Linked DNA regions of Homo sapiens. The protein of the gene in region 1 interacts with the protein of each later gene in a pairwise test. Each region holds a gene or a part of one and is shown in the gene's direction. Other genes may lie near its edges.

What was found.
Region 2: the proteins of USP15 (region 1) and TIFAB interact in binary tests that used the Homo sapiens proteins (3 or more experiments, as listed by UniProt).
Region 3: the proteins of USP15 (region 1) and SPDL1 interact in binary tests that used the Homo sapiens proteins (3 or more experiments, as listed by UniProt).

What each region holds. Positions count from the first base shown.
Region 1 is NC_000012.12:62,382,249-62,385,903, forward strand, and holds part of USP15 (ubiquitin carboxyl-terminal hydrolase 15), read left to right. Parts: intron 1-1,591; coding exon 1,592-1,750; intron 1,751-1,829; coding exon 1,830-2,054; intron 2,055-3,655. UniProt on the Homo sapiens protein: Hydrolase that removes conjugated ubiquitin from target proteins and regulates various pathways such as the TGF-beta receptor signaling, NF-kappa-B and RNF41/NRDP1-PRKN pathways.
Region 2 is NC_000005.10:135,443,817-135,447,571, reverse strand, and holds the end of TIFAB (TRAF-interacting protein with FHA domain-containing protein B), read left to right. Parts: 3' UTR 1-463; coding exon of another isoform or gene 464-1,198; 3' UTR 1,199-3,346; downstream 3,347-3,755. Other genes in the region: DCANP1 (dendritic cell nuclear protein 1), read left to right, coding at 464-1,198. UniProt on the Homo sapiens protein: Inhibits TIFA-mediated TRAF6 activation possibly by inducing a conformational change in TIFA.
Region 3 is NC_000005.10:169,590,201-169,593,855, forward strand, and holds part of SPDL1 (protein Spindly), read left to right. Parts: exon of another isoform or gene 1-629; intron 630-847; coding exon 848-1,024; intron 1,025-3,153; coding exon 3,154-3,348; intron 3,349-3,655. UniProt on the Homo sapiens protein: Required for the localization of dynein and dynactin to the mitotic kintochore.

The sequences.
Region 1 (3,655 bases):
AGCTGAAATTTAGCTTTATGGCTGAAATTTAGCTTTATATTGTTAAAAAAATGCCTACTTAATTATATAGGTGAAACTTTGAGAAGTTTTAAACTTGTAGAGAGAATAAGCAGTTTTAAGTCGTTATTTATACAAGTAATTTAAATGGCATTGATAGAGGACATCTACTGGACAACATTTTTTATTAGCTATATACTAGTTCTTAGAAAATAAAAAACCAGCAAATCAAAATGCCTCTGTATTGTCTTCCTTAACATTCTAAACTTTGGACAAACTAGTCCAGACAAACCATCTCTCAGCTCTTACTAGCATTCTAATTGGTTTTATTTTGGTAGATTTTCTCTCTTAAAATTATGTGTAAATAGGTTCTTTATGTGTGACTTTTTTTCTGTCAGATGATGATTCATACTATTACATTTATTTTCAGTCTCATCCAAAAACAAAAATACTTAGTGATGAAAGATTAGGAAAATTGAATATGAACATTAATGTTTCTGTTATCTCTGTGATACTCATCCTCCTTTTGCGCATAGAAACTAAGTGAGAGCCTAGAGTAGTTATCTTAAAAATGCTTTCAGATACGTAATTATCTTTATGTGGTAATATAGCAAGGATGAGAACCTGCCTCTTCCTGTCTACCTACCAGACATTTATAGGAGGAGGCAATAGGAATACCTAAAGCTAAGAATTAAGGACATCTGGAAAATCCTTTGACAAATAGTGAAACAACAATTAATGACAATGAAATCTATGACCAAACAAAGATCAATACATTTTTATATATTAAAGATTACATGTGTTGATCTATTTTGTCCCAGATAAGCTTTGTTGAGTGCTTACTAGGAATGCAAAACAAAATATAATTCATATATATTCCTGTTGTTCGTGTATACAATTTTTATTATTCACAGGAGTTATGTTCAATGAAGCTGCCACAAACACTGAAATAACAACTACTGAACCATTACTCCTAGGGAAACTATAGGGTTTGATTCCTCCAAGCCTTTGTTCACAACATTTTCGTCAACCAGACAATGTATAACTTTGTTTTGCATGTGTTTCTGTTTAAAAACAACTTGTTTAATATATATTGTTGAGTCCTTAACATTGAACTCACAGCAAACAGTGCTATAACTCATGTCTTAATGAAGCATATCTAACACATACTTTTTCTCCATAAAGCACATCACAGCTTTCTTGCATTTAGGAACACTAGCTGGCATGTTTGTACTTCATTTAGTGACCATTTTAAACACTGAAATTAACAACAAAACAAACAAAAATGTGAAAAAACATAACACTAAATAAACTACAAAGGACACTTGTTTATAGATTCAGAGCTGAAACAACAAGCCAAAGCATCACCTTGTTCAACCCCAGCTGGTAACATGCATATCAGGTGACTCAAATTTTTTGCCACTCTGAAAATATCTACAAATGACCATGAATTGATTTTGGGGTTACAAATACATTTTAGAAAGCAGGCAAATTCACAAATGTGGAATCCATGAATAATGAGAATCTATTGTACATATGTTTAAAAATCAACCCTGTTCCTAGAACTGATTTGATGGTTTTGCATTTCTTACAGACACAGGTAGGACGTTTTGCACCTCAGTTCTCTGGATATCAGCAGCAAGACTGTCAAGAACTGTTAGCTTTCCTATTAGATGGATTACATGAGGATTTGAATAGAATTAGGAAAAAACCATATATACAATTAAAAGATGCAGATGGAAGGCCAGATAAGGTAAATTTCATGATCCTATTGTCACCATTGTTATAATTTTGTGATACCTCTTTCTAATTTGTGTCTATTATCCTTGTAGGTGGTTGCCGAAGAAGCCTGGGAAAACCATTTAAAACGAAATGATTCTATCATAGTAGATATATTTCATGGCCTTTTCAAATCAACTTTAGTTTGTCCTGAGTGTGCTAAGATTTCAGTAACATTTGATCCTTTTTGTTACTTGACACTTCCATTGCCCATGAAAAAAGAACGCACCTTGGAAGTTTACTTAGTTAGAATGGATCCACTTACCAAACCTATGCAGGTAAATCATGGGTTGGTTTGTTTTGTTTTTTTTTTTTTTTTTTTGCATTTGTTATTTTTATTAAAAAATTAGTGTTGAGTCCTTATTATAAAAATTAAGTATTGAATTATCAAGCCCAATCAATAATGTTTATTTGTATAAGAGATTTTATAAGCTGAATACTTTGGAAATCAGTGTAACTTTTTACAGTCTTGAAAGAGCAACGTGTGTCTTATAAAAAATTCTCAAAAGGCTTTTTATAGAGGTTTATTTTTATAATATTGGGGTGAATATTAGCTTATGAAGATCAACATAATATTTTTAATTTTTTTAAACTTCAACTTTCTTTAGTGTTAATTGTAATTTTTTTTTACTAGTGGCTATTGGAAGTAAAGCTAATACTTTTAATTCATAGTGTGATAGTAGTGTATTTAAATACCTGTAATTTTTAGGCATTTTAGGAACTTAAAAGAAAGTAGAAATTCAGTTAGACTAAAAATATTTTGTTCAGTGATGTTCTCTAATTTCTAATACTTTGAAGTATCACATATTGTTTATTCTGTGCAAAAGTCCTGTGGTAAGTCTTACTGTCAAATTGTCTGCCTGATTCCGTTACCTAGTGTTATAATTGGATTATTTATATTTTGTGGGTAAAGCACTATCTTTTCTCCCTTATTTATTAATCAGTTAATCCTCTTCTGACACTTGACCCATCCCAGTGAAAGTAACTTCTTCTTTTTCTACCTCTCTTTCCCTAAATTCTAACACTTAACTAATTTTGTTATAACTTTTGGCTTACTTTTATCTTTTATCCCTAGACTACAAGTCTTTGAAGACAGAGACCTTGTAAACCTTTGTATTTCCAGCTTTTGTGGCTGGTAAATATTAATGCACAAGAAGTATTCAAAAATTTTATTCATCAAGATACTTAACTATGCACCTACTAAGTATAAAGCTCTTTGGCTAAACAAAAAAGATATGATTCCTGCTTTAGAAGATTGTTTTCTGTAAATTTTTAGCCAAATAGCTCAGTTTGTTAGTGCATAATAGTCACGATGTCTATATGAAAGCTATATTTGAACAAAATTATGATCTTACCATTCAGGGATGTATTTGGGTTTATTGTCAACAAAGACAGGGTATATGTAGTGTTCATAAACACACAGTCCTTTTATTCAAAGTAATTAAAGTCTAGTAGATACTAGGTATGTACTCAGTTATGCAAATTTAAGCAATTTGTTTTTCTGCTGCTTTATGTTTTCTTTATGAACTCATTGAACACAATGCCCTCATATCAGTATTTCACTGGAGAGTGCTAAGTACTATCCCTTATCTGTGAGCAGAGCCAATAAAGACCTGCTTTTACTTTTGGCCTGGGGAATATGTGTTCACATTTTTAAAGTTATATCCTTTAGATATTCACTTATTCACTCGTTTATAAGTACAAGATTGTCAACATTCTTTTCAATGGTGAGAAACTATAACAGTGCCAAACCACATCCTTACCTCTCTAGTTTATAACTTTGCAGATATACACCAATGAGTGTAATGGAGCAAGAGAGCGTAGAATAATAAGTATAAATTTACTGCAACAAAAAATAAATGTAGATGTTTTATTTCTC
Region 2 (3,755 bases), on another chromosome or scaffold:
TGATTTAGTCTGCTCTTGCCTCTATTTCTCCCGCTGGAAAATGGGTAAGATAATAGTACTACCTGCTAGAGTTACGAGGGTCTTAGAAGGTGACACCTGTAAAGCATTCAATCAGTGCCCAGCACACACTTAATAAGGGTTAGCTACTATCATGAGACCTGAGAGAGGAGGGCTCACCATCCACACGGAGCTAAGGAAGACTCACACCCCAGTAAGCTGGCTCCAGAACCCAAGGGCTTACCTGTGCTCTGTGATTCCCCAACTAGGGATTTAGTTGTAGCCACGGACCTGGTAGGCAACAGGGAGGGGATTTTAATCTGCTCCTTGCATCAGAAGGTCCAATAGGCAGGGTTAGTATAATGGGAGATGCCCTGGTAGGGCTGGCAAGGAGAAGAAGCCACATGTATTTTGGTCTGATGAAAAGCAGCAGTGATCTGTCACTGACCAAAATGGTCCCCCAACTATGCATTACGGAGCAGCAACCCACATACAGAACTCGAGAAGCCACGGCCTGGAGACTGTACCTGGACACCAAAGACTGGAGAGAGGAGCTGGTGGGGAAACCCCAGAGTTCCCAGGGTGCCACTCCCCAGCTCCACCAGAGAACTTTGGGAATGAGCTGCTGCCCCTGAGTGCCCCTCTCCAGGGCCTCAGTGAGGGTCTCTACCCTCCAGGGAGGAACAAAACCTTGCCAGCTGGGGTCCTGCGAGAGGGGGCAGTTCAATTCCTCCACAGGGGACTCTGCAACTCCAATCTTTCGAGTGAAGCATCTGCGAGGCCCTCAGGGACCCAGGATGAACTGCATAGCAGCAGAAGGAAGACAGGCCAGACCAGGCGGGAGGGAGCCCGGAAACATCTGGTTTGTAGTTTCAGACTCTACCCGTTCACAGTTCACACAGTCTCACCGGGAAACTCACACCTTGCCCTGTACCAAGTTTTTAAGGCAGTTAAGCTCTGCCCATCCGAGACTTCATTTTTCTTGAGTAGAAAATCACTGAAATCATCAGATCCATGGCACCCACCTTCACTTTCTCCTAACAGCTGGAACCGTCAGGCTGGCTTCAGGGCCTGGTCTTCGCACTTGATATCACTATCCCTCACCTGCTCAGACAGCCAGAGCAGGCGGGTGAGTTCCTCCCAACAACCTCCACTGCATTCTCTCAGCTCCCACCGCAGGGCAGCCCACGTGCCTGAGTGAACATGTGTGCGTGTGCACACACGCAAGTATGCACAGACATACACTAAACACGAACATACAGTGCACATGAACGCTGCTCCCAGCTAGGGCCCTCTGGTCAGACTGCTGCCTGGGTTAGAATTCTTGTCCCCACCCCCACTTACTATAGTTCTGTGATCCTGGACAAGTAACTGAATCTCTCCGTGCCACAGTTTCTTCTTGTAGAAAACGGGAAAGTTCACAGTACTTACCTCCTTAGAGTCATTGTGAAGGTCAGTTTGAGGCATCACAAATTTAAGGCACCCAGACATAAGGGTCAACAGGGTTAGCTATCACTGTCCAGTTTGGTGGGAGGAACTGAATGCATGTAGGCACATGGACCCAGTCTACACTCAGGCACAAAAGGAGCTACATTAGTTACATTCAGGCATACCCCAGAGCACTACAATTCTCTGAGACATTGTCTGGAAATCTAGAAATCATCTCCTTGCCCTTTAAGGTATTTTAACCCTCGCATTCCTCTGCTTTTCCAAGAATGTGAATCTTGCCAAGCTGTCCGTGAGAGACACGGGCTCCCCTCGAGGGAGACTTGCAAATGCTCCATAAACAGCCACAGTGTGGGGCTCTGCCATGAGGAAGTCACAGCAGACACGCTAGACAGCATAGTCCTGGATGCAACCTGGAGGAAGGGAGGCCCATGGTGGAGCACTCACTCCGTGCCTGTCTGCCCGGTGAGACCTCAAGTTCCTTGCAGACAAAGGCCATGGGTTGTTGGCTCTTGTGTTCCCGGTGGCCTTTCCAGAGCTGAACAGAGGACAGATGCACAGACGGGGGGGCTCTGGTGGTCAAGGCAGCAGTCCCCTTGGATACTAAAGTCTGAGCCAGGCCCCTCAGGCCCGGCATGGGCAGTGCGAGGCCCATAGTGGTGGGAAGCCAGTTGGCCAGCTGGGGTGAGAAGGCCGCGAAGCCATGGGCAGACAGGAAGTGGAGGTGAATGTCTCTGCCTCCTGTAGGCCTCAGCAGGGACAGCACAGACCCTCTGGCTGGGGCAGCGCAGACCCTCTAGCTGGGGCAGAACAAGGCTGGTGCTTCCTTCTAGTCCTTGAGACTTTGTAGCTCTAACTCAAGCAGAACCCTGGGGTTTTGGGATTCTGTGTGGTGACTGCTGAGGAAGGTTTATGGATTTGACAGGGTGCATGTCACAGAGAGACAGTTCTCAGTCAGCACTTCCTGTCCCCTGCAGAGGCTCATAGGGGACAGCCCCTGCCAAGGAGACCCTGGAGGGGCTCTGAGGATAGCAATCAGAGGTTGGGCTGGCTGGACTGAGCCCAGGCCTGTTGCCCACCAAGTCTCCATAGGTTCTAGTCTGACCCCTCTCTCCACCCCTGGGCTATGCAGGCCAGCCCGTGCAGACCACCCCCGACGCGTCCACTTGCAACACCCGCCTCACTGTGCCAACACTCCATCCACACAGGAAAGGACTGAGAACGTGATGCTTAACCCAAAGGAGTGAGTTTCATAGGATGGGTGGCTTTAACAGTTTCACAGCAGGACACTGAGGGAATATTTCCCTATCCCTTCAAATGGACGGTCACTACAGAAACGTGTAGAGCAAGACTTTGTCAAGGGGCTGTTTCCAGGTCTCCCGGTGTCTAAATAGCAGAGCTGGAATGGGAACTGAGAACCGATTCTTTCCACAACCGCCCACTGAGCAGCAAGGCTGCAGCCAGCAAAGAGGTGCGGAGGCAAGCAAGCTCCATGTGGTGGGGACAGCGCATTGCGACCTCCACCACCCCTGCAGTGGGCTGCCAGCTGAGCCACCTGTCTTCCACTGTATCTACTGTACGAACTTCTCCAGCTCTGCTCTGTTTTCTCTTCCTCAGCATCCACCCCGTGACACGTAGTGGTGGCTGATGTCGCCACAGTACCATGAGGTTAACAGGTCCTCCCTCCAGCTTCCCTCATGGTGGCAGCCTAACCTGCATTGCAGCCGTTCACCGGACACCGCACCAGACCCTCAAAACCCATCCAAGACTGTGGGAGGAGTAAACAACCCAGCCCAGTTAAGAGGAGATGCCGAATTTAATGAACCCTATTTGAATTGCAGGGCTGTGATTCCTCTTACCTTTAACGTGAACTCACAGGCGGATTAAAGTGAAATAAAACCTACCATTTGAGTTACATTCTCAGCTGATTGGAAACATGCATTGCCTCCCCATGACCGGGCCGTGAGAAGGGAAGTTATTATCTTTCTTTAGAGTTTGTAAACTCTTTATGGCTGAGGCAGCTTTAATCCTGCTGGGGAAAAAAAAGGATCCGGGAATCAATTGCTCCTATTTACCTTTGTTTTCCAATCACATGCTCCAGTGGGAATAAAACATCCTAAGTGAGGGGATGTGGGGAGCCAGGTGATCCCTGACAGAAGAGTTTGATTATTTTCTTCTCTAGGCATGTGAATTGAAGGAACTTTAGAGTTCTATTTGGCAAGGGGTCTCATTTCACAAAAATGTGCACCCCAGTAAGGATATCAGCACTCCTGGGCCATTACTGGTTCCTCTGCCTTTTCTTTCCAGAGGAA
Region 3 (3,655 bases), on another chromosome or scaffold:
AAAATATCTGTAGCAGGTAAAAATAACTAGTGATGGCAACCTTTGTGTTTCTACATAGTACTGTTGTAAACCAAGAACTGAGTGCAAAGTCATAAAGGCAAAGTAAAGATTACAAATATCACTAATAGAAAATAAAACTGTTATACTTAATCATTTTGAGTCATAACTTGTCAAATTTCAGTGTTTAACAGTTAATACTCTTTGTCTTCCTTTAAAATAAAATGGTTTTTGAGGGGAATATTTTATCATTTTTTAAAGCCTCTTGAAGGAGTTCGTACTTGTAACATTTTTAATGTCTAAACTTCCCTGTGAGTAAGCAAAAGCCCTTTTAATTACTCCTTTTGTCTCAGCTCTGCATTCATTCTGATAGACCTTTTGTGACATTTCTCAGATGACTACATTCTGAAAGTAAAGGCTAATTCAGTATTTCTTTTTTTTCAACTATTATTACTACTACATTGTGTTCAGAGCTACAAGTAGAGCATCTCATTATCAAACTAATAATTCTCATGAGGAAAGCTTAAGTGCTGTTAAATCTTTTTTTGTTGTTAGCAGAGATTACTTGACTTGACGTGTTGACATACCATGGAGCACATTTTACTTCCTTGACAAGGCACAGAAGCAGTAAGGTATCCCTTGCATGGGTTTAACATAGTTTCGAAATACACCTCAGGGGTTTATTAAGACTGATTAACTACAAAGTTATTCCAGGTTTAACATGTCTTCGTTATTTGGAAAGCAGCAAATGCTTGAAATAAGAATGAAACAATTGAAGTTGAAAACTGATTGTATGTAATGGCTTTAGGCTATTTTTATGTAATTGAATTGTAATTGAATCTGTTTTCAGAGTTATGAACAAGAAAAATATACCCTTCAAAGAGAAGTTGAACTCAAGAGTCGAATGTTAGAAAGTTTGAGCTGCGAATGTGAAGCTATTAAACAACAACAAAAAATGCACCTGGAGAAATTGGAAGAACAACTAAGCAGAAGCCATGGACAGGAAGTGAATGAACTAAAAACTAAGGTTGGGATATCTGCGTATTTCAGCACAAAATATTCCATATTTATGCAGCCATCTGTAAACTTTAGATGATAAAGATTTTCTTAAGTGTCAGCTTTGCAAAATAGCCAAGATCTAAGTCTTCATTATCTTAATATTGGGGGTGGGAACACTGAGATACAAGAGTTTGTCTAAGGGACTTGTATAAATTATATCCTATTAATTAAATACAATTATTTAATTTTGGTTGCTGGATATTTGTGAAGGTTTAGTTTAGTGACTAGCATGGCCTCCTTGCTGATAGTGGGTACAGCAGCCCCTTGCAGAAAGCCTCGTCTCCTAGCCTTCCCTGCAGTCAGTGGTATGCTTTGTAATTCTGTAAAACAGACCAGTAGTTTCTTACTAGTTAATGTGCATTACAAATGACACTTTATAGTTTGTTTACTGAGGATAAACTAATACATGTGCTCCAGTTCTTACAATAATATTGTGGAAAGGTACCATTATCATTTCCATATACCAGATGAAAGAGCCAGTGTTTAGACAGACTGAGTAAATTGGACACAATTCAAGAACTAGAAATTCTCCATCTAGGTTTGAACTGAGGCTGTCTGACTCCAAAGGCTGTGTTACTGAATCACTACATAGTCTAACAGCATGTTACACTGGCTCCATTTCAAACATAAACGCAAGATAAATGATTGGTCAGTGGTTTTCCCTTTTCCCAGCTAGCCAGTGCTTTCAGGTTGCTTCTGAGGAATCCAGAACTTTTTATCATGGATCTGCTTTGTGTATAGTCTATACTCTGACTTTTCCAGACACTGTCTACCAAAACTTGCCTGACTTTTGTCCTCCTTTCTCAGAAGTCTGTTACCCAATTTTCAGCTTCTTGTATAGCAGCCTCTAAGATTTTTCTTTTTCTGTATACCACCTATACTATTACTTAATTTCTCATTGACTCTCTTTTAATGTTTACTGATTTTAAGAAACATCAATGAAAGTATTTTTTTTTCCTTTTTTTTTTTTTTTTTTTTGAGGCAGAGTCTCACACTGTCGCCCAGGCTGGAGTGCAGTGGCATGATCTCGGCTCACCTGCAACCTCTGCCTCCCGGGTTCAAACGATTCTCCTGCCTCAGGCTCCTAAGTGGCTGGGATTACAGGTGTGCGCCACCACGCCCAGCTAATTTTTGTATTTTAATAGAGACAGGGTTTCACCATGTTGGTCAGGCTGGTCTCTAACTCCTGACCTCGTGATCCGCCCACTTCAGCCTCGCAAAGTGCTGGGATTACAGGCCTGAGCCACTGCGCCTGGCCAAAATTACATATTTAAGCTTGCTTATTTTTTCCCAGTATACACTAAAACAAACATAGCTATCTAAATATACCTTCATGTAATATATAATCATCTTGCATACCACTCTGACAGATAATATCATCCAGCTTGTCTGAAACTAGTCGGATTTGAGGCCCTAATGACTGATAATGATGTGCTTTCTTCCCCCTCTGGTTGTTATTTTTATTTTTGCAATAGTTTTCATCACCTAAACAAAAAAGAGTAATAAAGGGAGTATTCAGGACTGAGGTAAGGCTAATTATAGAGATGGCTTTTTTTTTTTTTTTTTTTTTTGGTGGAGCAAAGAGTACATTAGTGAAATATTTTGTTTTACTGATTTTCTCAAATCACTTATGCCAAAATTTGGATTTTTTTAATACCTTTTCTTCTCTTATTTTTCACATTTAATTCATCAAGTTCTAAGAACTTGACCTACAAAACATCTATGACGCTACTGCCACTCCAATCCAGACCTTCATCATCTCTTTCCTGGACTACTGCTGTAGCCTTCTGACCAGGTTGCTTGCTTCCATTGTTTCTCTTCATGCCAGTCATTCTTCACACAGTAGCCAAGTGGTCCGCATCATAGTGCCTCCAGATTGCTTCTGAGGCATCCAGACCCACCCCGATTACTCATGGATTATTTCTATGTTTATTAAACAAGGTGTGTCACTAGCTGTTAAAAGATGCCTAACCTTGGGCAAATAGGAAACTCCAATAGTATCATCATTCAGTAAGTTTGGTTCAATCAGTTCAATCAGTGATTGTTTTTAGAAAGAAAATAACTTTCAATTTATGACTTTTTTTTTTTTGGCTTTAGATAGAAAAACTGAAAGTGGAATTAGATGAAGCCAGGCTTAGTGAAAAGCAGCTGAAGCACCAAGTAGATCATCAGAAGGAACTCCTCTCTTGTAAATCAGAGGAACTGCGCGTAATGTCTGAACGTGTGCAGGAAAGCATGTCTTCAGAGATGCTGGCTCTTCAAATTGAGCTGACAGAAATGGAGAGTATGAAGGTAATTTTTATGGCATGTGTTTCTCAGGGTTTTCTCTTTTTTTTTCTGGCATATTTTTACATGTTTTGGTAATAATTCTTAAGAGCTAGTTTGAAGGCTGAAACATTTTTTGACCTAACTTGCATCTAACTAATTAAAAAATGGGTTTTTTTTAGGTGGATGACTTCATTCATAATATAGCTTTAGACTATATGATTATGTAAGGCAGCCTTTCTCTTAGATTAATGAAACGTCTGGAAGAATTTAGAGGCATATACTCTGATCCCAGATTTTATCGTAAGAGCCCAGTGTAAAACGTTGGCTCAGT